Regions from separate parts of the Homo sapiens genome. Here region 2 is linked to region 1. The links come from fine-mapping of genetic effects on gene expression. A gene starts in region 1. The other region holds a variant in brackets. All regions are shown on one strand. Distances are from middle to middle. Region 1 holds the start of CALHM2 (calcium homeostasis modulator family member 2). Region 2 overlaps SLK (STE20 like kinase).

Region 1 (2,913 bases):
ATTCCATCCTTTTTTATCCATCCTTCCCTCTATTCCCACTTCTGGGGTCCAGTTTCCCTCCTCTTAATTATTTGGGAGGAGTTGCTCAGATCTTTGTGGGCCAAGGTGGGCTGGGAGGGCTCTTCCAGGAGGTAGGAGTTGGTATGGGCCCTGAAGTCAGGGAGGATTAGGATGAGCAAAAAACAAGGTGTATGTTGGTGGGTGGCAGCACTTCCAGTGGGAAGAGAAGGCCCGGAGGTATCAGGAGGTACAAATGTGATGAAGAGCAAAGCTTTGGGTCAGGCACACCTGAGTTCAAATACCAGCACTGCAGGACTTGTGGCCAGTCACCCAGCCACTCTAAGCCTCAGTGTGTCTGTCTATAAAATGGATATTAGAAGACCTGCTTGGCCAGGCGGAGTGGCTCATGCCTGTAATCCCAGCACTTGGGAGGCCAAGGAGGGAGGATCACTTGAGCCTGGGAGTTGGAGACCAGCCTGGGCAACATAGCAAGACTCTGTCTCTGTAAAGTAATAATAATAATAAGAAGAAGAAGAAGAATAAAGAGAAGATTTATAATTTTTTTAAAATGAAAAAATTATTTTTTAAAAAAGACCTGATTTTCAGGATTGTGGTAAGGATAGAGGAAGATAACTTTTAGGGAAGGATCTGGGACTGTGTTTAGCACATGCTGGGATCTGAAACAAACAAATAAACAAGCAGAACTTGGTACCTTTTCTTTCCTTCGTACATATGGTCAAGCCCAGCTCAGGGAGGCCAGCGGGTCACTCGGCAGCTCCACCATGACGGAACCACGAGCACTGCAGAGCTGACAGATGTCGGGGGTCCTCTCCCTCCATGCTAAGGGTCATCTAGCCTGTCCGTAGACTCTCCTGTGCAGCATTCCTGACCCGTGACGCTTCAGCCCGCATCTTGACCACTTTTAGATACAGGCTGGGCAGCTCTGATTATTACACAGGGCTTCCTTCAGAAACCTGCCTCCTTGTAACTTTCACCCACCAGTTGGAGCTCTGCCTGCAGGACCCGGAGAATCCCTAGGCTCCTGAATTCAATCCTCAGCCCTCCAGGGATCCGAAGCAGGTCCCGGGGAGTTAGCTGACTATAGGTCAAAGAGTCAGCATTGGGGATGGTTTGTCCAGTCAATGGACAACTCTGAGGGAGAAGGGCCAGTAGAGGGTGGGGCCCTGGCCCTGAGCATCCTGCAGGGCTCAGCGCGGGCCTGACGACACCCTCCCTTGACCCTCGCGGGGTCTCCTTTGGTAGCTTCTGCCCAGCGGGGGTCAAGTACGTGGGGTGCTCTTGAAACTGTCATGGGGGGCAGGTCTGGGTCAGATCTCCCCAATGCCTCCACATCCCCACGTGGCCCTCCCGACTGGTCCCATTGGTGTGGAGCATGGCCCGGTCCGGGTCTGGGCCGAGGGCGGAGGGCCAGCACGGCCCAGGGACGGCGAGCAGCGGGTCGGTGGGACGCGCAGCAGCTGCAGAACAGGCATCTCAACTTCCTCTCGGCTCCTCTCCTCTCGCGCCGCCCTCGGGGCCCGCCCTCCTCTGCCTGGTGGCGCCGGGAGGCTGTTTTTCCACTCACTGGCGCGCAGACTCCATCCCACTGTTTTCTTCTCTCTTTTCTGGAGTTAGATTAGTCTGAAGCCGCCACCAGCCCCAGGCCCCCGTGCAGAAGAAAAGCGGGAGGGAACGGCGGAGGCCGCCGCTGCCCTGCACCGCCCTCCTGGAGGCCACTTGGAGAGTCCGGCCCCGAGGAGGCCATGGCCACAAGTGCCCACAGCTGGCCCCAGGTAAGGAAGGGGCCCTCCCTGGGGTGTGCCAGGTGTCAGCGGAGCATGGTGGGGCCTGTCCCACGCTGCCCAGAGGGAGAGAGGCCCCTAGCTGAGGTTCCCTCCACCCGGTTGAACAGGGAGCAGTCCTGCCCCTCCCCGAGCCGCCAGTCTCCTGTCGTCACTGATGTTGGAGGAGGTCCCACTGGGGGTCTGGATGTGACCCATCCTTGGCCTGGGGGCAGTGGTCTCAGAAGATGGCCTGGCCCATCCTCTGCTCACCACCCACCCTGTGCAGGTATCTTGTACCCCACTTTGAGCCAGTTTATGAACCCAGGGCCTCCACAGGGAGCTAATTAGGAGCCTAGAAGCCAAGAAGGGAAAAGGATGGGGCAAAGGGGGCTGACTTTAACCCATTCTTCCCCAGCAGTGATGCAAACTGCCTTTCCCAGGAAGTTAGGCTGGAAGCTCCAGGCTGTGAAGTGGGGGAAGAATCAGACTCCTCCTCCTCCTCCTCCTCCTCCTCCTCCTCCTGTTGTTCCTCCTGGTCCTCCTCCTCCAGCTTCTCCTTTTCTTGGAGTCTGCATGGCCACATGGCTCTGCCTGAGCCCATCTGGCAGCCTTCCTTGGCAGGGACAGAAGGGGTGATCTAGAAGGGGTGATCCCTCCATGAAGCATGGAAGGGAACAGGGCTAGGTCTGTGTTTGGCGCTCACCCCATCCCTCCACTCCCTGGCTTCCTCTGGCCTGGGGAGTTTTGTTTTTCACCCTCCAGAGGGGGAGGACATGGGGCCACACCCTGGCCTGTCTCTCAGGCTTGTGTGGGTGGAGGCTGGGAAGGGAGTTGGGCTAAACTTCGCTGTTGCCCGAGGCCATGGCCACTTCCCGGCAGGTTGCCAGCGTCGCTACAGCCCAGACCAAGGCAGAATAATCTCCGGATGAGCTGGTGGCACCGCTGAGCCTTTGGTCTCACCAGGGCTTCCTGTTGCTGGCAGGCGGGGTGGAGCGGAGCTGCTGGGAGGCTGCTGGATAGGAGAGGGGTCACGGCTGCGGAAGAGGAGGTTCTTCGGGACACCCGTGGATGGACACGGCAAGGTCAGTAGGAGACAGAAAAAAAGAGGGTTCACTTAGTGCAGAATCAC
Region 2 (2,913 bases), 530 kb before region 1:
AAATCAGACCTTGGCAATTACCTTGGGCAGTAGGATATAAATAACCCCCACAAGCTTAGCGTTCCGTTAATGGAACACTAGGCATAATCATTACCCGTGAAGGGTGGCAGAATACACCACTTCAAACATGCCACTCTGACATAAGGATCACTTTGAGTTTGAAAGGCACTTGAAAAATAGCAGATGCAAGAAGGGCATTCTAATCTTCCACCTTTTCTTCCTGAAACTAGGAGATGAAAATGTTCCTGTAAAAGACGTCTTCTCTATCCCAGGAGAAAAGAAACATTCTTTGATAGGGAGTCACAGTCAAGAGAATTGTGTACAAACAGACCTTGTTAAATTAAACATCTTCCTTTAGCCTCCCCATATAACATATCTACTTTTCTACAATCGCCTCTCTTCTTTCAACCTAACACAAAAGCATGTAGGTTTTGCCATTTCTCTATGACTTCATTTTCTTTTGAGGGCTCCCATGTCACATAAAACTTATATTAAATGTCTATGCTTTTCTCCTCTACTCTATCTTGTGTCAGTTTAATTCTCGGGCCCAGCAGGGACGCTAAGAGGGTGGAGGCAAAGTTTTGCCTCCTCTATACCCTTTCCAGTCTCCCCATATTTCTATCATTTGGTCATTTTTCCTTGTTCTTAGTACTTTAACTTTCTCGTTTTCCTTCTTTGGTTAACTTCTCACCATCATTTATTATAAATGAAAGGTTTCCAAATATGTAGTAGATACTAGGATCATTTTTAACGTTAGGAATCAGATCTTAAAATGCTAACTAGGTTGTTTTTATAAGACATTTCACTATGATGTATATTAACATCACTTCAGCAAAACTCCACTTATTACATTAAAAACAGATACTAAATTTTTTAAAGTTAATAAATGTTTCAATAAATAAATGTCTAAATCTCACTTTTAAGAATTTATCAGAAGGAGATAATTTCATAAAATAAAATTCATGCACATACAAAAATACTCATCAAAGCACCATTTGCAATAGTGAAAAAGTGAATCAGCCTAAATGTCACTTAACAGGAACCTGCTTAAATCATGCAGTACAGTTCTACAATGAAAAATGACGCAGCCACTAAAATTAATTGACTGATGTCCTGGAGATTTTAAAGATGTATCTTTTATACTTGTGAATGGGCTGGCATGAAGGAAGAAAAATAACTCACACTAGATAACCTCTAAAATTCCTCACAGTAACAAATTCTGTCATATATTGATTATACCAACAATGATATCATTTGGTTTAATATAAATAATAAAAGTTACATTAAAAGAATAGTGCCTCAAATTATTGCTTGAAAATAACATGATTACTCATCAGGATCTAGTTCTAAAAAACTTTAAAAAAACAAAACTGAAATAAATATTTACAAGTGTGTGACACTATTCTCTACACTAATATAACTGGGACATAAAGTATTTTTAAAAAAGAGCTTATCTACCTAATATCTAAAGGCATAAAAACTCTTCACATAGGCCAGGCGTGGTGGCTCATGCCTGTAATCCCAGCACTTTGGGAGGCCAAGGCGGGCGGATCACAAGGTCAGGAGTTCAAGACCAGCCTGGCCAACATGGTGAAACCCCATTCCTACTAAAAATACAAAATTAACCAGGCATGGTGGCGGATGCCTGTAATCCCAACTACTTGGGAGCCTGAGGCAGCAGAATTGCTTGAACCCAGGAGATAGAGGTTGCAGTGAGCCGAGATCGTGCCATTGCACTCCAGCCTGGGCAACAGACCAAGACTCTGTCTCAGGGA[A/GA]AAAAAAAAAAAAAAAAAAAAAACTCTTCACATAAAGGCTTAATGAAATAACTAAACCCGGGGTTCCCCAACCACAGGGCCACAAACCAGTACCAGTCCACGGCCTGTTAGGAACCAGGCCGCATAGCAGGAGATGAGCAGCAGGCAAGTAAGCAAAGCTTCATCTGTATTCAGAGCCACTCCCCATTGCTCACAATACCACCTGAGCTCTGTCTCCTGTCAGATGAGCAGCAGCATTAGCTTCTCAGAGGAGCATGAACTCTATCGTGAACTGTGAACCCTATTGTGAACTGCGTATGTGAGGGATCTAGGTTGTGTGCTCCTTATGAGAATCTAACGCCTGATGATCTGTCACTGTCTCCCATCAGCCCAAGATGGGAACATTTAGTTGCAGGAAAACAAGCTCAGAGCTCCCACTAATTCTATATTATGGTGAGTTGTGTAATTATTTCATTATATATTACAATGTAGTAATAATACAAACAAAGTATACAATAAACATAACACACTTGAATTATCCCCAAAACATCCCCGCATCCAGTCTGTGGAAAAGTTGTCTTCCATGAAACCAGTCCCTGGTGCCAAAGAGGATGGGCACTACTGAACTAAACAAATGTTAAAAACAAAAATGGAATAACAAATCCCAATCTTAATTTAAAAATATAACTTCTGTTGATAAAAAGATTTCAAATATCAGTCATGATCACCTAAAATCACTGTTTTTATTTTCATGAATCATCAGTAGAGCTTGGCCACATTACATAAACAAATGAGGGATACTGGGAAACATAAGTTGTCTGAAAGTTCCATACTGGTTTCATATTCTAAAAAAATTACACCCTCATATTACTCTTGTTTGAACAGAAGGTATTCCCTGGGTGGTGAGTACAGGAATAATTTTTAAATCTTCATTTATTTTCTTTCTATATTTTTACATTTTCTAACATTATATAGTATTTCATAGTGAAGAATATATTTTAATAAAATTTTTAGCTGGAAACTGAAAGACCAGCACAGAAAACAGAGATGATTTCAGTCCCACAGAGGTGTTAGTCAATCAAAGGCAAACAAACAAACAAACAAAAAATATGTAAGATAAATACAAAAGGAATCTAAAAAACAAGGAATAAAAAGAAAA

What was found. PIP is the estimated chance that this variant, and not a neighbour inherited with it, causes the effect. A credible set is the group of variants that fine-mapping cannot tell apart.
Region 2: its variant is the best candidate, but not a certain one, in a credible set for the expression of CALHM2 in CD8 T cells (CEDAR, PIP 0.58).

Annotation. Positions count from the first base shown.
Region 1 is chr10:103,451,036-103,453,948 of GRCh38, reverse strand. CALHM2 (calcium homeostasis modulator family member 2) reads left to right here and starts at 1,579. Exons shown (of 4, transcript NM_015916.5): 1 at 1,579-1,793; 2 at 2,664-2,866. It overlaps CALHM1 (calcium homeostasis modulator 1), which reads left to right. Exons shown (of 2, transcript NM_001001412.4): 2 at 1-709. LOC124902494 (a long non-coding RNA gene) reads right to left here and starts at 1,506. Exons shown (of 2, transcript XR_007062275.1): 1 at 713-1,506. RefSeq lists a silencer at 1,178-1,507 and enhancers at 1,346-1,967, 1,968-2,588, 2,537-2,906.
Region 2 is chr10:103,985,554-103,988,466 of GRCh38, reverse strand. The region is part of intron 1 of SLK (STE20 like kinase); the gene reads right to left. Among named protein-coding and RNA genes, the nearest start is that of SLK, 20 kb to the right of the region's middle. The variant A/GA (reference allele first, on the strand shown) is at 1,776.